Linked DNA regions of Homo sapiens. The protein of the gene in region 2 interacts with the protein of the main gene of each other region in a pairwise test. Each region holds a gene or a part of one and is shown on either strand. Other genes may lie near its edges.

The links.
Region 1: the proteins of VDAC1 (region 2) and HK1 interact in binary tests that used the Homo sapiens proteins (3 or more experiments, as listed by UniProt).
Region 3: the proteins of VDAC1 (region 2) and PRDX6 interact in binary tests that used the Homo sapiens proteins (3 or more experiments, as listed by UniProt).

Annotation. Positions count from the first base shown.
Region 1 is NC_000010.11:69,321,847-69,328,846, forward strand, and holds part of HK1 (hexokinase-1), read left to right. Parts: intron 1-7,000. UniProt on the Homo sapiens protein: Catalyzes the phosphorylation of various hexoses, such as D-glucose, D-glucosamine, D-fructose, D-mannose and 2-deoxy-D-glucose, to hexose 6-phosphate (D-glucose 6-phosphate, D-glucosamine 6-phosphate, D-fructose 6-phosphate, D-mannose 6-phosphate and 2-deoxy-D-glucose 6-phosphate, respectively).
Region 2 is NC_000005.10:133,994,897-134,002,053, reverse strand, and holds part of VDAC1 (non-selective voltage-gated ion channel VDAC1), read left to right. Parts: intron 1-7,157. UniProt on the Homo sapiens protein: Non-selective voltage-gated ion channel that mediates the transport of anions and cations through the mitochondrion outer membrane and plasma membrane.
Region 3 is NC_000001.11:173,472,325-173,480,442, forward strand, and holds the start of PRDX6 (peroxiredoxin-6), read left to right. Parts: upstream 1-5,010; 5' UTR 5,011-5,073; coding exon 5,074-5,168; intron 5,169-8,118. UniProt on the Homo sapiens protein: Thiol-specific peroxidase that catalyzes the reduction of hydrogen peroxide and organic hydroperoxides to water and alcohols, respectively. Can reduce H(2)O(2) and short chain organic, fatty acid, and phospholipid hydroperoxides.

The DNA.
Region 1 (7,000 bases), on a different chromosome or scaffold from region 2:
AGAGGGTGTACTGGCATTAGGCTGAGCTAAGCACAAAACACATATATTCCTTTCACTCTTCTAGTGCCTGTAGGAGGAAAGGGAGGCATATGTGTGCTTGTGAAGGATTCCATTCATCAGAATCCCAGACATCTGCCAGTTCTGCAGCTAGAGGCTGGGTTCTTTGACCTCTAAGTAACTTTAAACACGCATCTCATCTCGCCAGCTTCTTCCACTCGGTTTAGCCATTAGGAGCTTGGAGCAGGGTGAAGGATTGCATAGTGCTCTGTTTGTTTAGAAAGGGAAGATGGGTCCAGGAAGGTCAGAACTTGGCTTCTAAAGAAAGATTAGACTTCCTTTCCTCCAGGCTTGTCAGAATGGTGAGCAAATGCCAGTGGATTTTCTCTGGGCGAGATCCCCATAACGCTAAGTGATTTCCACTAGTAGGTGATCATGAAAAGGGTGTCATTTCTTTCCTCATTGCCTTGAGGCACATCAATAATTCAACTCCATAAAAATATATCCTGGGTTGAAACAGTTCAGGTGTCTGACTTCCCAGTTTGGAACCCCATTATCCAGACGGCATCTGCATAAATTGGTTAATGGGTGCTGTTGAAGAGAGTGTGATTTGTCCAATGGCCGAACTCAGGAGTCCTTGAGTACTTGACCCAGGAAGACAGGGGAGAGTAGGCTTAGCAATTAAAGGGTTGCCCAAGGTACATTCCTTAGAGCCTATGTGTTCCAGCTGCAAAAGCAAGCATTAAAAATAAATAAATAAATAAAAGGCCGATGTAGTGGCTCACACCTGTAATCTCAGCACTTTGGGAGGCTGAGGCGGGTGGATCACCTGAGGTCGGGAGTTCGAGACCAGCCTGACCAACATGGAGAAACCCCGTCTCTACTAAAAATACAAAATTAGCTGGGTGTGGTGGCGCATGCCTGTAATCCCAGCTACTTGGGAGGCTGAGGCCGGAGAATCACTTGAACCTGGAAGGCAGAGGTTGCGGTGAGCCGAGATCACGCCATTGCACTCCAGCCTAGGCAACGAGAGCGAAACTCCGTCTCAAAAAAAAAAAAAAATGCCCATTCATTATTGCTCAGGGGTGAGAGAGGTGATAGTTAGAAAATTGTGAAAAATCTGGCTGGGCACAGTGGCTCATGCCTGTAATCCCAGCACTTTGGGAGGCTGAGGCAGGTGAATCACGAAGTCAGGAGTTCAAGACCAGCCTGACCAATATGGTGAAATCCCGTCTCTACTAAAAATACAAAAATTAGCTGGACGTGGTAGCATGCACCTGAAGTCCCAGCTACTCGGGAGGCTGAGGCAGGAGAATTGCTTGAACCGGGGAGGCGGAGGTTGCATGAGCCAGGATCATGCCACTGCACTCCAGCCTGGGCAACAGAGCGAAACTCTGTCTCAAAAAAAAAAAAAAGAAAATTATGAAAAATCTGTGGGTTCTTGCAGTGGCAAAGAAAAAAAAGAAAAAATTATGAAAAGTCAGCCTGGGCAACAAAATTAAACCTCATCTTAAAAAAAAATTTTTTTTAGCCTGCTTTGGTGGCATGCACACACCTGTAGTCACAGCTACTCAGGAGGCTCATTGAGCCCAAAAGATTGATCCCAAAACAGTGAGCTGTGATGCTATGATTGTGTTACCGTACTCCAGGCTGGATGATAGAGCGAGACTCTGTCTCAAAAAAAAAAAAAAAAAAAGAAGAAAGAAAATTATGAGAAGTGTCTCATAACCTCTCAATTCTGATGTTGTACAAATATTCAGTGAGAGCTTCTTGGTGAATCTTGACTTTATAATCCCTGCCTTTCCTACCTTAGATACTCCTAGGGTTTCTCCCAAGAGAAGCCCCATCACTTTATCTGGTTGGATAGTTTGGGAATGTCATGAAGGAATAAACTGGCAGGCAGGGTGTCTGTGAGGTGCTTTCACATCTGGCCAAGCTGTGCCATGCTCCCACGCTCCTACTGTTCTCCGGAGAAGACATAGGCAGCTTTCCCCTTACAAGACTGATTTGGCATGACTGGGACTGTCTGTGTGTGTCTGCAGTCAGGGATTCCTGGCAGACAGATTTAGCCACTGGAATCACCTCTGAGCATGCCTGAGAAGGTCCAGGGAAGACATGGATAAAGACAGGGAGCTGTATACCTCTGCATCCAGGAATCAGTTGTGGTCAGACTGCTGGCACCTGCTTATGGATTTGTTTTTATTTTTTTATAGAGACAGGGTCTCACCATATTGCCCAGGCTGGTCTTGAACTCCTGGGCTCAGGCAGTCCTCCCGCCTTGGCCTCCCTAAGTATGCTTATTGATTTGAAAACCCTGAAGATCAAATCTGATCACAGGAGCTCAATCATTTCTTTAAAAAATGTTTGATTTTTTTATTATGTGCAGAGGACTGTGCTAGGCTGGGGTGACAACTATAAACAAGGCAGAAACGGTCCCAGTTCTCATGGAGCATAAAATATTTGCTGGCCGGGCGTGGTGGCTCATGCCTATAATCCCAGCACTTTGGGAGGCCAAGGCAGGCTGATCATTTGAGGTCAGGAGGTCGAGACCAGCCTGACCAACATGGTGAAACCCCGTCTCTACTAAAAATACAAAAAAGGTGCCAGATGTGGTGGCTCATGCCTGTAGTCCCAGCTTCTCGGGAGGCTGAGGCAGAAGAATCACTTGAACCTGGGAGGCGGAGGTTGCAGTGAGCTGACACTCCAGTCTGGGTGACAGAACGAGACTCCATCTAAACAAAAATAATAATTAAAAAAAAATGAAGTATTTGCTGTGTTATATGTGCAAAGCATATGGGCTATGAGGGCCCACAGCATGGTGTGGTCATACCTTGGGTGGGAAATCCCTAGGCTAGGAACTGCTTACAGCTAGGCTGCAGATGTTAGCTCCTTAAGTGCTTCAGGAAGCTGCTCCCATCCCCAGTTCTGGGGATGTGTTAGTCTGTTTGGAGTAGCAGGACAGGTGCCCACTGCCTTCTGGCCTAATAAACCTTAACAACGGGATCTTTTGCAACCACTTAATATACACTGGGTTGTGTTCATTGTATTTGATCTTAAAGAAAAATAGGTAAAAATTTTACAGTTTGATTGGTCTTGATTTCTGGAAATAACATTGACTTCTGGTAAACAGTACACATCAGGGATATTATACTTAGAAACTTTGTAAGGTGGAGTCAAAATTAATTGTCACAAAAATGTGTATTTTTTTTTTTTTTTTTTTTTTTTGAGATGGAGTCTTCGCTCTGTTGCCCAGGCTGGAGTGCAGTGGCACGATCTCAGCTCACTGCAAGCTCCGCCTCCTGGGTTCTCGCCATTCTCCTGCCTCAGCCTCCTGAGTAGCTGGGACTACAGGCGCCTGCCACCACTCCCGTCTAATTTTTTGTATTTTTAGGAGAGACGGGGTTTCACTGTATTAGCCAGGATGGTCTCGATCTCCTGATCTTGTGATCCGCCTGCCTCGACCTCCCAAAGTGCTGGGATTACAGGTGTGAGCCACCACACCCGGCCATGTATTTTCTTATTCTTTTTTTTTGAGATGGAGTTCTGCTCTGTTGCCCAGGCTGGAATGCAGTGATGTGATCTCGGCTCATTGCAACCTCTGTCTCCTGGGTTCAAGCGATTCTCCTGCCTCAGCCTCCTGAGTAGCTGGGATTACAGGCACCAGCCAATGCTCCTGGCCTGCATTTTTTTTTTTTTTTTTGAGATGGGGTCTCACTCTGTATCCTGGGTTGGAGTGCAGTGGTGTGATCTCAGCTCACTGAAACCTCCATCTCGCGGGTTCAAGTGATACTTCTGCCTCAGTGCCCCCCCCTGCCCCCCAGTAGCTGGGATTACAGTCGCCTGCCACCATGCCCGGCTAATTTTTGTATTTTAAATAGAGACTGGGTTTCACCATGTTGGCCAGGCTGGTTTCAAACTCCTGACCGCAAGTGATCTGCCCGCCTTGGCCTCCCGAAATGCTGGGATTACGGGTGCCAGCTACTGCCTCTGGACTGCATTTTTTTTTTTTGAGACAGAGTCTTACTCTGTCGCCTGGGTTGTAGTACAGTAGCACGATCTCACCTCCCTGCAACCTCTGCCTGCCAGGTTCAAGCGATTCTTCTGCCTCAGCCTCCCTAGTAGCTGGGATTACAGGTGCCTGCCACTACACCCAGCTAATTTTTTGTATTTTTTGTAGAGACGGGGTTTCACCGTGTTGGCCAGGCTGGTCTTGAATTCCTGACCTCGTGATTCACCCGCCTCGGCCTCCCAAAGTGTTGGGATTACAGACGTGAGCCACCGCGCCTGGCCGCTTTTTTTTTTTTTAATGGCTTTTTGTCTCTGGGCATCCTGGAACACTTCGTGAGTGTCATGTCGGGTATGAATTATATATATATGTAATTGAGATTACACTATAAATGTTTCTGCACACAACTATACTAACATATGTGTAGGTGTGTGTATGCTTTCATATGCTCTTTCAAAAGCCTCAGCGAGGTTGTCAGTACAGGAAGTATTATTCCCGGGCTTCCCAGCACGGCTCCCTCCCCAGGGCATCCTGCTGCCTGCCTTGTGTGTTGCAGACAGAAGGCAAGCAATTTATTCCCCATTTAGAAACAGAGACTGAAGGCCCATCCAGAGGAGATAAAACATTTTTCTAAGGTCGAAAGAAAATCAGGAATAGGATTCAGAGGGCTCTTCTTGCTTCCTCTGTTTCCTTCTTTTAGGAGAAAAACCTGTCCTTGTTGATTTTAATGTTTTACCTTGGAACCTGTATTTTAATACTGTCCCCTCACAAATCAATACATTTGAGTTAATTTTTTATTATGAAATATTTGAGGCACATAAAAGAAGATTGAGGTTCACATAAACACCTCTGAGTCTGCTACTCAGCTTGAGAAGTTATAGACACAATTACAATTACATTACAGACACAGTTGAAGCCCTTTCTATGCCATCTCTGAGATAGTTTGCTGCTTCTCCCTTCGGAGGTGACCTCTGTCCTGAATTTGGTGTTTATCTTTTCATGCATGTTTTTACGCTTTTATTACATATGCATATGTCTATAAACAGTATATGGTATTGCTTTATAGATATATGGTTTTGATCTTTTGTAAATGGTGCTATACTGACTATGTGTTTAAGCAATATATGGTATTGCTTTGTGTGGTTTTAAACTTTTTTTTTTTTTTTTTTTTTTGAGATGGAATCTCATTTTGTTGCCCAGGCTGGAGTGCAGTGGCACGGTCTCAGCTCACAGCAACCTCTGCCTCCTGGGTTCAAGCAATCCTCCTGCCTCAGCCTCCTGAGTAGCTGAGATCATACCTGGCTAATTTTTTTGTATTTTTAGTAGAGACGGGGTTTCACCATGTTGGTCAGGCTGGTCTCAAAATCCTGACCTCAAGTGATCCACCTGCCTAGGCCTCTTTCCAAAGTTCTGGGATTATAGGCCTGAGCCCCCACACTCAGCCAGTTTTAAACTCTTATAAATGGTGCTATACTGTATGTATCCTTCCGCCATTTACTTTCTTTTAGCTCAACATTGTATTTTTGAGATTTTAAAAATGTTGATCTACGTAACTGTTTCATTAAACTGCTCTGGTTTCTTACAGAGTATAAAAGCTCCCTAGTTAATTCATCTATTCTGCTTTTGATAGGCATTTGTGTTTCTAATGTTTCAAGTGACAAACAATGCCTTGGTGAACTTTCTCTAGAACAACTCATTCAGCGCATGCACAAGTTTCTCTAGGCTCTAAGCTGTGTACCTAGGGCTGAGATCACCAGGCGGAGAGATGTGTGCGTTTTCCCATATACGAGATTCTGCCAAGTTGCCATCCGTGGTCATGCCAGTTCACACTCCCATCGGAAGTATGTGCAGGTTGCCTTTGTTCCACACCAACCCTTGTTATGGTCAAACCTTTGCAAATTTGTAATAGATGAGTTTTAGTCTGTTTCCTTCCTCAGTTGTTTCCATTCACATCACAGTATTCGAGCTGTGTTTAAAATTAGCCCATTTCCTGAGTTACCTTATCAGAGTCCTTGCTTCAGAGTCCCACGGACTGAAGTTGACAGCTCCATGGACTGCTGCTGCTGAGATATCTGCACTGGGGAGGGATAGTTGATGCAGGGAAAGGCTTAGGATGGCTCTCCATGGCCCCTGGTGCTGTGGGCTGACTCCGTTAAGCTTTTCTGGGAGTTGAAACACACATTTGTGAGCTTTCACTTGCACACACTTTCTCTCTTCCCGGGTGGATCCGACCCGGGTAGGGCAGGCTTATCTGTTGCGTAAATGTGCCCAGCTCTGCTCAGAGAAAACTCAAGCCAGCAGCCTCTCAGACCGTCTTCCGTAAAAGGAGAGGGTGGCTGTACCCACGTGGCAGGGAAAACTGAACCGTGAAGTCGGCGGCTCAGCCCTTTGCACACAGAAGCTGAGCTGTCCCTGTGCGAGGCAGAAAATGTCGGCTCATGTTCATCTTGAGTCTATGCCTGATTACAGGCTCCAGACTCGGAGACCTCGAGGGTGCCTTACAGGGAAGGGGGCATTCAGTGCCTACTAGGCGCCCGGCTTTTCTTTTTCTTAGCAGGGGTCTTATTTAATCATTTCTAGTACTCATATGAACCAAAGCCAACATTCATTGTTGTATTCATTGCCATGTACTGTGCTAAAGGCATCGTGAGCCTTTGCTTAGTTCATCCCCACAACGCCCTTGTGAGGTGGGTGTGATTTCAGACGGTGAGGCCCAGATAGTGAACGATAGAGCCAGCATTCAGCCTCATCAAGGCTGATGGCAGAGCTCCTGCTTTTATTATTTTCTCAATTGAGTTATAATTCACCTACCATGAAACGCATCATTGTACAGTGTACAATTCAGTGGTTTCTAATAGATTTACAAGGTTGTCCGAGCACCATCACCATCTAATTCCAGAATATTTTCATCACCCTCCGAAAAAAACTACCCGTTAGCAGTCACTTCCCATTTCTTCCTCCACCTAGCTTCTGGCAACCACTATCTACCTTTTTTTT
Region 2 (7,157 bases):
GGACCAGCCGAAGCTTGGAGGCAGCCCCTCCTGGTGCTCAGAGATTCTGTAGTCTGCGGCTTTGGGTTTTCCATGGAGTCCTGTGGTAGCCACTGAGAAAAGTTGACCAGTGGGCTCCTCAGCTGGGTCTGGGCGCATTTCTCCATTTTACCACGTACTCAGGGGGTTTGGGATGAGTGGGACTTTAAGTTCTTTACTCAGAACTGTGCTGGAAAGAGCACTGGAGAGTAGCTTAGGCCCATAACACAGGTCTGGTGAGCCATAGGGTCGGTCTCATACAGGTCAAGTCACTGTCTTGTGCCTCAGTTTCTCTCTCTCTTTTTTTTTTTTTTTTTTTTAGATGGAGTCTCACTCTGTTGCCCAGGCTGGAGTGCAGTGGTGCAATCTCGGCTCCCTGCAATCTCTACCTCTCGGGTTCAAGCAAGTCTCTGCCTCACCCTCTCGAGTAGCCGGGATTACAGGCGCCTGCCACCATGCCTGGCTAATTTTTTTGTATTTTTTAGTAGAGATGGGGTTTCACCATCTTGGCCAGGTTGGTCTTGAACTCCTGACCTCCTGATCCACCCGCCTCGGCCTCCTAAAGTGCGGGGATTGCAGGTGTGAGCCACTGAGCCCGGCCGAGTTTGTCTGCTATAAAAGTATGATTGTCGTCATTACAGTGATTGCTGATTGAGGGCTTGCTCAGCACCTTTCTGGGGGCTCAACGAATGTTCTGTGATGTTGAGTTCACCACCCTATACCCTGGGAGAGAGATAGTGTGTTTCCATTTCACAGGTCAGCAGACTCGAGCACAGAGAGGTGAGGTAACACAGCCTGGCAGGAGTGGAGTTGGGATTCAAGGCCTGGTCTGAATGGTGGTGCTCTCACATTGCAGTTGCACTCCAAGGGACCCTTGCAAGGTGCTAACAGATGTGAATGCCTTTTGGAAAGTCAAAATTGGTGTTCAGATGGGAGACATTATTTTTCCACACCAGTCAGAGTGAACTTGTGCATGGCTGTGTGCGGGCCAACTGGCAGTGGACAATGGAGTCACCTCTATTTCTTGCAAGGACAGTGGTGCTGAGTGTCTATTATAAGGGTCCGTTTTCCCTGGGATCTGGTGGGAGGCATTCTTTCAGGACCTGTTCAGCTAAACAATGCCTCATTGTGGACATGAAGGACTCTGGACCCTGTGGTTCAGGGTGACCTTTTGAACATGCTTAGCAGCCATTATTATAATAAATATACAAAATGAAAACTTGTGATAAAATACTGTGTGTATTCCCTGCTTACCAAGCGCCAGCCACTGTACCAAGTGTTGTATATTAACGAGCTAATTCAGTCCTCACAGTGACGCCATCCAGGCTCTCTTTCTCCATATTAGAGCTGAAGAAAAAGGAGTAGAGAGGTTGCGACTTGCCCAAAGTCACATACCTAGAAAGTGGTGGGGTGGGTTAGAACTCAGGTCTATTTGATTCCCGAGGCTTCCTGCCCAAGCACTGTCTGTCTCAACCCTACCTGGTCAAGCCAAGCAGTGAGGCTCCAGGGAACTTGAGGTGCCTTAGGTCAGGTAGGAGCCCCAGGTATGCCTGGGATCCAGACCATAGTGTACTGGCTGCCAGCGCAGGCCATCTCCCCTTGATAGGTGGGTGGGCAGGCTGCCCTGAGTCAGCAACCTCTTGAGCCCAGGAGCTCAGCATGGAACTCAGCTGTGCTGGTGGTGGCCCAGCTGCCAGGGTGTTTCAAAATAGAAGCTACCCCTGGAAAGCTCTACTGCCCACTGCGAGACTGTTGTGGAAGAATGGAGGGAGAGAACAGCTGCATTGGGTACGCAGACCTGCTACCAGAACACAGGGCCATCAGCCTTTGCCAGCATCCTGGAGCTTGAACCAGGAACTGTTCCCCTGGGTTGTTTCTTCCTGGCAAGAAAGAGAAAGTGCTGGAGTGTGTGTGTGTGCATGCGTGCATGTGTGTGAGCGAGCTGCTGATTGTGTTCGCCCCCATGTTGGCTTTTAGAGCTAGGGTTGCCTTCTGCTGGGGAAGTTGCTTTTCCTGGTCCTCAGGGCTAGGAAGAGGTGCTGTTTCTGTGATCACTGGCTGGTCTGATACCCCTCCTATAGGCTGGCCTAGTTCTGCCCTGACAAACCACCTAGAATGGTGTTGGTGAAACAGCGGGGCCAGAGACTTTTCCATAGTACTCTCTTCCTTGGCAGAATCATAAGATGATGGCAATGATGATGATGATGGTTGTGATTGCTCTGTTGGTTAGCGTCTTTGCAGGGATCTGGTGCACACTTACACTTGGTAATCCAGGAGAGTTTAATGAAGACATCATTTGCAAAGCTGTGGATGGGGTGTCAGGTCTGGTCTGTTAACACCCTGAGGCCTACAAGAGAGGGAGCTTCTTGGCAGGAGCTGTGGCCTTGGGTAGAGGAAGGTAGTCATTGCCCATCTGAAGCCTAGCAGGGAGGGAGACTCGGGGTGAGTACCCCGACTTCATTCTTCCCTAAACTCCCGTCTTCTGCAAGTACCTCACGTTGAAAGGCTAAGCCCAATCATAAGCCCATGGACAGCAGTCCATAATGATCAGTTCTGGGGGCACAGAGCAGGGTGGAAGGGAGGAGAATGGATCTGGAGGGGCAGACAGAGTATCCAGTGTAGTGGATTATGGTTATTACTGCCATTTGTTGAACACTTACTCCATGCCAGATACTTCTGCTGTTCTGCCTGTTTCACTCATTCCTTGTAACAACTTCCTTAGGCCTAAGGCCTTTCCTCCCAGCTGTTTTTAGCTGAGTCTTGGAGACCCATGGCCACCCTGCTCCCTGTATCAACCATTGCAGTAGTTGTTGGCTCTCTAGGGGTGCAAAGCTCATCTGCCTGAATCCTTCTATTATTACTATTTATTTCTTTTTATTTTTTATTTAAAAGAGACAGGGTCTCACTGTATTGCCCAGGCTGGTCTCGAACTCCTGCATTCAGGCGATCCTCCTGCCTCAGCCTCCCAAAGTGCTGGGATTAGAGGCGTGAGCCACCATGCCTGGCACATGCCTGAATCCTTTTGAGGGAGCCTCTGCAGAGAAGAGAGCATATTTCTACCAGGCGGGGGCCTGGTAGGTGCTTAGTGCAGGAACCGCCCTGAGCTGCTGCTTCTCAGTGGCACCTGGGGGCAGCCCTGCCTGTTAGGCACAGGCTGAGAGGTAGGGCAGGAGGAGTTCCATCTCTTCTGGCAGGCTCTTCTTGAACAAGCGCCTCCGGTGATTCTTGTGCACCCTGAAGTTAGGGAGCTCTTTCCTGCTCATGATTTCTGGCAGGGTGGCCAAGCCACTAGTGGTCACCTGGGAGTGAAATGTGCCCCGACGGACCTTGCCTGATAACTCTTCCATCTCAGTGTAGTTTAAATCTGTTCTTGCAATCTGTATGGACACTCTAGGTAGCCTTCTGGCATTGCTACTGCAGCAGCCTTGGAACGTGATTTGGGACACAACACAGCTCAATTTCAGGCACAGTGGTTGGCTTTTAAAGTGCTGTTTTTTTGGAGAGGGAGTCTCTCGCTCTGTCACCCAGGCTGGAGTGCAGTGGCACGATCTTGGCTCACTGCAGCCTTTGCCTTTGGGTTCAAGTGATTCTCATGCCTCAGCCTCCCAAGTAGCTGGGATTACAGGCACTTACCACCACGCCCGGCTAATTTTTGTATTGAAATTCTTTATCCTTAAACAAATTATTAGTATACACAAACAGCTTAAATAATGAAGCAGAACAAAAAATGAAAATTCGATTTGAAGTGCATTCCTTCCCTAAACCTCCTTCTCCAGAAGCGTATCTAAGCCAGCCCCAATTTGCAGATTGGCTTGTATCCTTCCACATGCTTTCCCATCCATTCATGAACATAGAAAGATGTGTAAAAAGGTTTTCCTCCAATTACATGGAATTACAAATTTTCTGACTTTTTTCATTTAACTGTATCATAGCTAGCTAGCTTTCTTTCTTTTTTTTTTTTTTGTTTCGAGACGGAGTTTTACTCTTGTTGCCCAGGCTGGATTACAATGGCGCGATCTCAGCTCACCACAACCTCCACCTCCCAGGTTGAGGCAATTCTTCTGCCCCAGCCTCCCGAGTAGCTGGGATTACAGGCATGCGCCACCACGCCTGGCTAATTTATTTTGTATTTTTAATAGAGACAGGGTTTCTCCATGTTGGTCAGGGTGGTCTCGAACTCCTGACCTCAGGTGACCCGCCCACCTCGGCCTCCCAAAGTGCTGGGATTACAGGCATGAGCCACTGCGCACGGCTATCGTAGCTTCATAGCTAGCTTTCTATGCCACCACATACATCCACCTTATTCTTTTTTTTTTTTTTTTTTTTTTGTGAGACAGTCTCGCTCTGTCATCCAGGCTGGAGTGCAGTGGCATGATCTTGGCTCACTGCAACCTCTGCCTCCTGGTTTAAGCTTGTGCCTCAGCCTCTCAAGTAGCTGGCATTACAGGCGTGCACCATCACACCTGGGTGATTTTTTTTTTTTATTTTTTTTTTATTTTTAGTAGAGACGGGGTTTTGCCATGTTGGCCAGGTTGATCTGGAAGTCCTGGCCTGAAGTGATCCGCCCACCTCAGCCTCCCAAAGTGCTGGGATTACAGGCATGAGCCACCCACCTTATTCTTTTTGATTACCATATGGTACTCCTTAGTTTGCAAGTATAGTACCTTAATTTTTATTCATTCATTTTCCTTTTGATGGACTTTTAGGTTGCTTCTGGGTTTTGTGTTACAAATACTGCTGCAGTGAGCATCCTCATATACACATCTTTGAGTAGTGCCTTGGTTGCTACAGTGGGGCAGGTTCCTAGAAGTGGAATTGCCACTAGGGTTAATGCTGGGTTAATTGCTCTCCAAAAAGAGTGTACCTGTAGTACTCCCCCTTGGCGTGAACAAGAGTGACTGTTTTCCACACCCTCACTGACACTGGATATTATTTACGTTTTTGCCAGACTGCTGGTTAAGTGAGCTTCTGAAACACAGATGTGGTAGTCACTCAACAGTGGCTCTTGGTGGCCCTTAGAATAAAATCCATGCATGGTATTGAGGTCAGAAGCAACCAGTGCTTCTGATGGCACTTGGTCTCCTCAGCCTGAGATCAGCTCTCCTTAGGCCGAGGTGGGAGCAGGCAGGGAGTGGAGGTCATTGCTAGTTGAGGGTCTCCCCAACTCCCCCACTCTTGGTGATGCTGCAACAGTGAGCCTGCAGAGGGAGCTCTTACTTCCTGGTTGCATTGTAATGAGTTCCTATTGTCAGATTCCAAGTTTCTACTTTTTTCCCCATTGCTAAATAATACTTTGATGCTCATTGCTCATTCACTCATCAAACACATTTATATTGAATGCCTATTATGTGCCAGGGCTTAGCATCTTTATATACGTAACTTTTTCCATATTTTGGATAAATTTATGCATGACAGGCTCTGGGGTGCTTTGAATTCAAAGAGGTGATTTTGGGGGTAGGTGTATGGGGTAGGGTGGGGTGGGGGCACGGTGAGCACAGCAGCTGTCATTGCCATTCAGCTGATGAGCCAAGAAGGATGTGTACCCCCAAGACAGAGGTTACGTAAGTATTATGCAGACTGTGCTGGGTGATAGATACACTATCCTTCCCCTCTGTGCTTCCAGTATGGGCCGGATTTTCATTCCTCAGCTGGAATGGGGCTTGCATAATTTGTTCAAGGTCAGCCAAGGAAAGGTTGGGTAGGTAGACTGGCAGGCTGTGGAGGGGAACCAGGGACTCCTGTATCCTGGTGTGACTTGCTGGTCCTTCTCAAAGTCTTCAGTGACTGCAGGCAGGTCTGCTCAGCCTGGCCCTGCCCATCCCTCTGTTTCCTACCAACCAGTGGGAACAAAGCCCCCAGGCTCTGCCCTGAAGCCATCACTCAGGCAGAGAGGCCTGTGGTTCTGACTCCCCCAGGACGCCCTCTGACTTCTGTCTGTCCAGGGCTAGCTGCTTTGCCGATGCCAGACTGCCCTGCTTCATGCGCAGCCTCTAGAGGCTCAGCTTGTGAAGGCCCCTGGGGGGTGGATGCTGCAGAGACAGCTGTGTATCAGTAGCTAACTGTACAGGCTCCGATTTGGAGCAGATCTGGGTGGAAGGAGTGACTGGGAGGGGTGGGGGCCAGGGTTCAGCCTTCAAGTCAGCACCCTGGCAGGGTGTTAAGTGAAAGCAGGCTTTGTTGCCGACTTTTCTTTCCTCCAGTCCTCGCCTTAGAAAATTAATGCAGATTATTATTTCTATCATAAAATTGTCTCTGAAATGGGTTCGAGAGCTGTGTAAAAATGGGCATTTTGGGGGTGCTGTCTGTAGCTGTAAGAAAGCTGAACTTCTCGGAGCGGCAGAGCTGTCTCGGGCCTTCCTTAGTTCCGTCAGATCAGTGCAGCAGGGGATGGGCCGAAGTGCACAAAAAGGAGGGGAAGCTACCACTACCTGGCAGTTGGGGGCCTTTAGTGAAAGGGTGAGTCATCCTTTTGCTGTCCTCGGTGGTGTCACTTCAGGCCCAGGAGTGGACTTGACTCCATTCAGCCAGTGGTTTCTGTGAGTCTTCCTTGCCAGGTGCTATGCTGGGGAGAATGCTTACTTGGGGGCCCAGAACGGGGGAGATTATGCTTCATTGTCGGTGTTCAAGGAGATGGGGAAGAGAGCAAGACACAGATGAGAAAGCCAGCATCCAGTATGTTTACAGTGAGGCATTGGATAGGGATATGTTTTAGTGAACCAGCAAGTTCACTTGCGTGCTGCTGGTACCAACTACATGGTTGTGTTGTGGAACCCCACAGCCCCAAAAGAGCTTGGCCGTGTCGGAGCTCCTAGAGGCCCCAGGAGGGGTCCGGTCTGCTCTTCTGAGCTCTGCTCTCTGAGTGCCTTGTCCTTGGGTGGTAATCTCTTTAGTGGCCTTGTACTTCAGGCTGATGTTTGCTGTGGGTGGGGTGTTTTTTGACAGGTGGCTGTGCTTGTTGGATTTTGGGGATTAGCGATGAGAGAGGGCATTTGGGGAACATTTAATGGATGAGTGCTCTGCCTTTATCCTGAGCGGGGACCAGTCCAGATGTGAAGGCTGCTGTGTCTGGGAGGCGTCTCTTCTGTGGGGTCAGGGGAGAGTCGTGGGGAAGGCTCTGGCTCCTAAGGTCCAGGGAGGTC
Region 3 (8,118 bases), on a different chromosome or scaffold from region 2:
CCTAGCTCTAATTACAGTCATGCATCACTTAACGATGGGGATATGTTCTGAGAAATGTGTCATTAGGCAATTTTGTCATTGTGTGAACATTATGGAGTGCACTTACACAAACCTAGATGGTATAGTCTACTACATACCTAGGCTACATGGTATAGCTTATTGCTCCTACGCCTCAAACCTGCACAGCACATTACTATACTGAATACTGTAGGCAATTATAACACCATGGTAAATATGGCTCAAGCCTGTAATCCCAGCCCTTTGGGAGGCTAAGGTGGGAGGACTACTTAAGCCCAGGAATTTCAGACCAGCCTGGGCAACACAGGTTAGGAAGACCCCGTCTCTACCAAAAATAAAACAATTGCCCAGGTATGGTGGCATGTGCCTGTAGTCCCAGCTACTCAGGAGGCTGAAGTGAGAGGACTGCTTGAGCCCAGGAGCTTGAGGCTGCAGTGAGCTATGATCACACCACTGCACTCCAGCCTGGGTGACAGAGCAAGGCCCTGTCTTAAAAAAAAAAAATGAAAAAAAAAAGGATAAAAAATGGTACACCTATATAGGGCATTTACCATGAATATAGCTTGCAGGACTGGAAGTTGCCATGGGTGAGACAGTGAGTGAGTGGTGAATGAATGTACTGTAGACTTTATAAACACTGTACACTTAGGCTACACTAAATTCATGTGTAAAAATTTCTTTCTTCAATAACAAATTAACCTTACCTTACTATAACTTTTTTACTTTATAAACTTTAAAATTGTTTTAATGTTTTGACTCTTCTGTAATAACACTTAGCTTAAAACACAAACACATTGTATAGCTATACAAAATACTGTATTTTCTTTTTTATATTCTTATTCTATAAGCTTTTTTATAATTCTAAAAGGTTATTGTCTTTTGAAACTTTTTAAACTTAAAAACAAAGACATAAATGCACACATTAGCCTAGGGCTTCACAGGGTCAGGATCCTCAAGACATCACTATGCGAAAGGAATTTTTCAGCTCCATTATCATCTTATGAGACCACCGTAGTATATGTGGTCCAATGTTGTATCACATGACTGTATAACTAGAGACATCTTGCTCTTTTACTCCCAGCTGTGGACAAACAAGAAACTTTGCTGTTGTGGCTGCAGGAAGGCGACCCAATGTTTCTCTAATACTTTGTACAACGTAGTCCTCATGCCCACTATGTGTAACAGGTCACAAATATTCATTAATAAAATATAGTCAAACCTTTAGGAGTTCACAATCTAGTGAGAGAGACAGGCATCATGGTGCACTGTTGTTTTTCCAAATGCCCATTGCTAATCTGTTCATTTTATTCTTCTGTCAAAGCAGTAAAGACAGAAGAGAAGATGTGAGTCATCCCAGAGTCACAGCCCTCTGGAAATGCCTGAAATCCATTCTTTCCTGTCCCTCAGATTACTGTAAGGACTTCAAGGTTCTCTCCGACCCTTATAGCTGTATGAAAACACTTTTTCTGATAGGAGAGCCTCCACCCTCTCTCTAAGGAAAGTAAATCCTTTCTTAGTCAAGCTCTCCCTTTTCCACACTCCGGTCTTTCCCTGGAATGTCTCCTCTGTCCTTCCTCCCCTCCTCCTTTCCCATTATACATCTCACTAACCCTCAGGAAAATAGCTTTAAAATTTTCCCTCTGGAATGGGGCCCAGTCCACAGAGCACCTACCTTTGGTATAAGTCAGATGTTAAACTCAATTACCTACGAAGGCCAGGCAGAACAGCGTTCTTCTGACTTTGTTTGCATATTAAGTTCATGGAACATTCTCTACTTTCACAAAGAAACATGATCATTTTTTTCTTGAAATATACAGCCCTTAGTTAAGCTTTCATTTGCACAGTTTTGACAGATAAGAATGCAAGAACTATTTCTTTTTCCTCCCAATTCTACTCTAATGTTAGTAACTGGCAGAGGACCTTCTGAGTAACAGAGAACATTGCCCTCTAAAAGGCTACTCAGCAGCCACTGTTTGCCAGATGGAACATGGGCCTGGTGTTGCTGTGTTGCTAGATCTTCTGACCTTTCAGGAGACAAAAATCCAGATATTTTTATGAAAAATCATGTTTTCAAAATGCTGATGTGGACGAAAGAAAGAGAGATCAGACTGTTACTGTTGTCTATGCAGAAAGAAGAAGACATAAGAAACTCCATTTTGTTCTGAACTAAGAAAAATTCTTCTGCCTTTAGATGATGTTAATCTGTAACCCTAGCCCCAACCCTGTGCTGGCAGAAACATGTGTTGTGTTGACTCAAGGTTTAATGGATTTAGGGCTACGCAGGGTGTGCTTTGTTAAAAATGTGTTTGCAGGCAGTATGCTTGGTAAAAGTCACCGCCATTTTCCAGTCTCAAGTACCCAGGGACACAATGCACTGCGGAAGGCCGCAGGGACCTCTGCCCAAGAAAGCCTGGGTATTGTCCAAGGTTTCTCCCCACTGAGACAGCCTGAGATATGGCCTCGTGGGAAGGTAAAGACCTGACCGTCTCCCAGCCTGACACCAGTAAAGGGTCTGTGCTGAGGAGGATTAGTGAAAGAGGAAGGCCTCTTTGCAGTTGAGATAAGAGGACGGCATCTGTCTCCTGCTCATCCCTGGGAATGGAATGTCTCGGTGTAAAACCCGACGTACATTCTATTTACTAAGATGGAAAAAACCGCCTTATGGCTGGAGGTGAGACATGCTGGAGGCAATACTGCTCTTTACTGCACTGAGATGTTTGTGTAAAGTCAAACATAAATCTGGCCTATGTGCACATCGAGGCATAGAACCTTTCCTTAAACTTATTTACGACACAGAGACCTTTGCTCACATGTTTTCCTGCTGACCCTCTCCCCACCATTATCCTATAGTCCTGCCACATCCCCCTCACCGAGATAGTAGAGATAGTGATCAGTAAATACTGAGGGAACTCAGAGACCAGTGCCGGGTCCTCCGTATGCTAAGCGCCGTCCCCCGGGCCCACTGTTCTTTCTCTATACTTCATCTCTGTGTCTTATTTCTTTCCTCAGTCTCTCATCCCACCTGACGAGAAACACCCACAGGCGTGGAGGGGCTGGCCCCCTTCAGTGGACAGCTAATTCAAGACAATTTAAAATGCTCCAAAGTCTAAAGCAAACAAGTTCACAGAGTGCAGAAGCATTGCCAGTGTACAGCTTCTGGCACTGTAAATTCTAATGAGTATTTTATTATATTTGCTTAATTTACAACAGACAATAATATAATTATGCCTTTGACAGACATCAATAATCTGTTTCTGTATTCATTCTCCATATTTATAGAGTATTGTGTTTTCTAGCTGATTTCCACAACATATTGTTAACAGTGCCTTAGGCCAAACTACTCTTCTTTCCCAACTATTCTCTTTCTTCCCTACAAAGGGAGTTAAAACAAGGAGCTGTTAAAACTTGGAGCCAAATTAGAGATTAAATTACATTAGCTTTAAACGGTTTTGTGAAGTGGCTAGAAATTTTTACCAGTAATCTTACTGCAAGTCCTGGGTCACTGAAGAACTCGGTAAATATGATTAGCATGCACGCACCAACACATCACTGTGATGAAAACGCAAATCACAGTATGTGAGTCACTACTCTCAACATTGCCATGCCCCTGCCTTAAACCTGCCAGCCCCATCCAGAGGATTTTTCTCATCTCTGAACTCCAATCATTTACACCTTCCCCCATCAGAATTTACCCTACATTTTATTATAATTGCATATAAATATGCCTTCCCTGTAACAGCAGGGACTGTGTTTCTCCACTGTATGGCCTGGCACAGTGTCCAGCACACAGCAGGCAAAGCAAGAGTTACTGCATGAGCCAGTGTCATCATCCAAACGATAGCTACCATTTCCAGAGCACCTACCGTGAGCTGACTAGTTTACCTACATTATCCTGGTGGCTTTCCCAGACCAGACCACCCAAACCAAAGCAGCCCCCCAGTCACCCTCTAGGCACATAACCCTATTTTAGTTCTCTGAATACGACTGATTGCTGTCTAACATATTTTGGTTTGTGTGCTTATTGTCTGTCACCGGTTTCCCTTCACAAGAAGGAAAGCTCCAAGAGGACAGGCATCTTATCTACCTTGTACTTGGCTCATAGCAAATAAATGAATCTAAGCCGCCCACCTCCCTGGGTGACAGAGTTGACCTGCACACAGTAGGTCTCAAAGAGTATGTTTTAAATTTTATATTTAGATTTCAAGATAATTGTGTTGAATATTTTATGGTTCATAACAAACAGAAAGGGGAGGGCAGAATAAAAATAAATAAAAGTTTAGTTACATTACCCTAGCACTGACATTGGTACGGGAATTTTTGCTGCAATAAGAAAGCCACTTCCTCTGACATAAGGTCACCCATACTTCTGGGTCTTGCCACATCCTCTTAGACAGTTCATCGTAGCTGGGCTGGCTGGGGCGGTCAGGACTCCAGACGCTCACACTAAAAGAGGGGTGGTAGTCGAGCAGTCACTCCACTCCTCTGTAGGGAGCTGGCCGCGAGTGGGTGCGCAGCAGGGTGCGCGCGGACCCGTGCAGCGCCCAGGGCGGCTGTGCGAAGCCGCCGCAGCCTGCGCGCCCAGGCGATTCTCCACCTTGGGGCTCGCCTTCCTGCCGCGTTCCTCTTCCTTCCATCCCTAAAGCGCGTACGCCCTGCAGAGTCAAACCTGGCGCATCCTCAAGCTTCCAGGGGGCAACGTGACCGAGCCCCGCATCACGTGTGCAGAGACGGCCTATAGTGTCTGAAGGATGCCACCTAGTCGCAGGCCCGGCGGCGCCACCAACAGCGACCGCGGTAGTCCAGCTCGCGCCGCGTCCCGGCCCCAGCCCGGCCCGGCCCAGCCCCGCCCCGCGCCCAGCCCCGCCCCGCCCCGCGCCCAGCCCAGCCCCCGCGGCCCGGCCCCCAGCGGCCGGCCTCCCGCGGCCCCGCCCCCGCCGCCCCAGTCCCCGCCCCTCGCGCCTTCGTTTATTCCTCCGCGCGCTGGGACAGGCTGCTTCTTCGCCAGAACCAACCGGTTGCTTGCTGTCCCAGCGGCGCCCCCTCATCACCGTCGCCATGCCCGGAGGTCTGCTTCTCGGGGACGTGGCTCCCAACTTTGAGGCCAATACCACCGTCGGCCGCATCCGTTTCCACGACTTTCTGGGAGACTCGTAAGTGGCCACCGCGTAGCCCTGTCCTGGCCTCGGTTGCGCCGGACTCGGAGGTGCCTTCCCTGTTTCTTCTCCCTGCCGTCCTCCCGGCCGCTCAGCCCCCTGCGCCGCCCTCGCCTTCCCCCGCACTGGTTCCGGCGCGCGCCAGGCCGTGTGGCCTCTGCTCAGCGTCGGCTGCGCTGCTGGGAGCTGGCACCCGTTCGGCCTGCCCTGCGCGGGCCACTCGATCCCTCCTGGCCTCCCCGCCTCCGGCGTGGCTGGGCAAGGCCACGCCAAGGTGGGGGGTGGGGAGGATAAAATTGTGTTCTGCGGGTTCTGGAAACTCACCGCCCGCGGGAGGGTTTGTTGTCCATTTAACTCGTCTTAGTAAACTGTGCAGGTAGCGTGGTCAGGCCGAGGGCGCAGGGGCGGGGCGGCATTGACGATCACTTCCCCGGACTAGTGCCCAGGGTCGCACCGCCCTCCCACCCTCCGTTCTGGAATTTGCTCCCTGGGGAGGATGGGTGTCTAAAGCCAAAGTCGGAGGACACAGCTGCTGGCTATAGGTTACAGGAAGGCCAACGTATCATCTGAGGGTGCAGTGGTATTTGCAGGCTTCTGGGCACAAAATGTGAAATTTAAAACCACTAGCTGCCAAGTAGGTGGCCGAAAGACTTTTTGTCCAGAGCCGCCTCCAATGGCCAAGATATGATTTGATAACAGCTTTAGGAAGAGCCAAGAACACTCTGCGTAGGTGTGCCTTCAGAGATTCCAGAACTTGCAACACTTGGAGGGAAGGACTTTCTGACGCTGTTCCGCTGGAGTGGCCTATTCTTGCTAGTGATGGCCGTTCCAGGCTCCAGGACACGTGTACTCCCCAACTTTGAGACTCTCTTGTTTTCCAGTGGCTTGCCCCTCACTGTCCCCTCCGCTTTCTACCTTGCTTCTAGCACATGAGCTTGCTGATGATAGCCAAATTGATGACCTGTGATCTGACTTGGCAGTTTTACCATTATGGATAGGAGTAGTAAATCGGTGTTGCCCTTTTTTTTTTTTAACAGCTCCTGAATCAGCAAACTGGAAGTTGCTTAGTTTTCATCAGAAGCATTCCAGGCATGTCTAGTTATATTATGGTTCTGGAGTACTAGTGGTCCCACTACACTGTGGGGCTCCAAGGCTTGACAACAGTTCTTCCCCAGATTATATCCTTTTTATATACAGTATCCAGGGAGACAGGCTTATGAAATTAATCAGTGATTGGACAGGGCTGTGCAGAGAACCAGGGACAGATTCTTACACATCATATGCCTATCCAACCCTTTATAACCTCTTAAGTCCCTTTTCCAGCCACTGAATAGGGAAAAGTTAAGCTTTGTGAAAGATAGGACTAGGCCAGAAAAAGGTTGAGAAATGGAATATTCAAACCTTGAATGCAGAAAAATACTTTAGAAATACAGCTTATGGCCATTCTTATACTTAGGATCTAGGTAGTAATATTTCTCCAGCAATCCTTGGGATTTTTAGAGTTGTGTTCCTTCCCATTTCTACCTGCAGCCCTCATCCCCCATCCCCATGAAACATAAACTATTTCCAGAACTCTTAGCTTGTATAGATTAAATATTAGCATAAAACGTATTTACTGTGCCAACAGTTATAAATGCTGTCACTTTTTAAGCTAACCATACTTTTTTGGGGTTTTGTTAATGTTTATTGGCCTCTAGATCCATCTAGATTTGATCAAAAGTGGTACTTTATCAGGGAGCCATAGTTAGGAACACGGTAGAAATATCTGCATTTATTAACTAATATACAAGTCTGCCTAGGATCAGGTATAGTATTCCCTACCTTACCGGGAAGAGAAGTTTGAGCCTTTTATATGTTTATAACACATGGATTTTTGCCTGATTTTTCCAATTTTCTATTCTGTATATGATCCCAAATCAGACTGTCAATTTTTGATCCAGGTATTTTTGAGAAGAAAAAATTAAAATGTATTTCTCTACCTTACCCCTGATCATTGTAAACAACTAAAGAGGTTGGGTGCTACATTGGGTGAGTTTACCTTATCGCTGTTTCTTTAAGTGGTAGAAGCAGCTTCTTCATAGTACATCTTCACTAAGCAAAATATGTGTTTTCCAGGGGTCTTCTGGGGCTTAGTAAGTGGGAACCATTCTCTTGAAGGAGGAAACCTTTTGTCTTTTGAAAATGGGTAAGAAAATGGGAGCATGTCACTGAATTACTCTTAAGTGCAGCAGTAGGAAGACTTGGAGGGGAAGGAAGGCCAAGGTAAGACATTCTTGGAGTTTATCCTATTTGTAGCCATGAGGTAAACTGGAGTTTCACTTCTGAGGGAGGGAAGGACGTGAACTGGCTTAAAACCAGTTCCTTTTGCATGATTCAGCAAAACAGTCTTTATGGACTCACAGTGGAAAAAGAACTCCTAACTTTTCTAATTTATCCTCCTTTTAACGATAGAGGAGGAAACGCCCTGTTCCATTTCTTCTCAACTTCTGGAGACCTTCTGTTAAGTCTCATCTAACCATTAAATAGATCGTTTTCCATAGAATCTAAGGCCTAGATTTTACTCATAGTGATATTATCTACTTCAAAAGATATACTCTATGTTCTTCCTTTTGCCCTTCATAGTAAAGTGAACATAGTGCACACCTCCACAATCTTAAAAAAAAATACTAACTTTCCTCCCAGTCTTGCCATAGGGCCCTCCATCCTTTTTGTAAGAAGATCTTTTTCCTTCTTGAAACCTTGGGAGTTGAGTGGCAGCCGTAAGTAGGAAGGAGGTGCCCTTGTCTTTGCTTGTTCTCTGTGCTCAGGGAAACTTCAGAAAGGTCAACTTGGCATCTAGGCTAGATTTAGTTATCTACTAGTTTAGGATCCTGCCTAAATCATCTGGTTTAGGATGGTTTAAGTTGATGGGGATGTGGAGAACTGAGTGTTAAATTTTCCTTTTCAG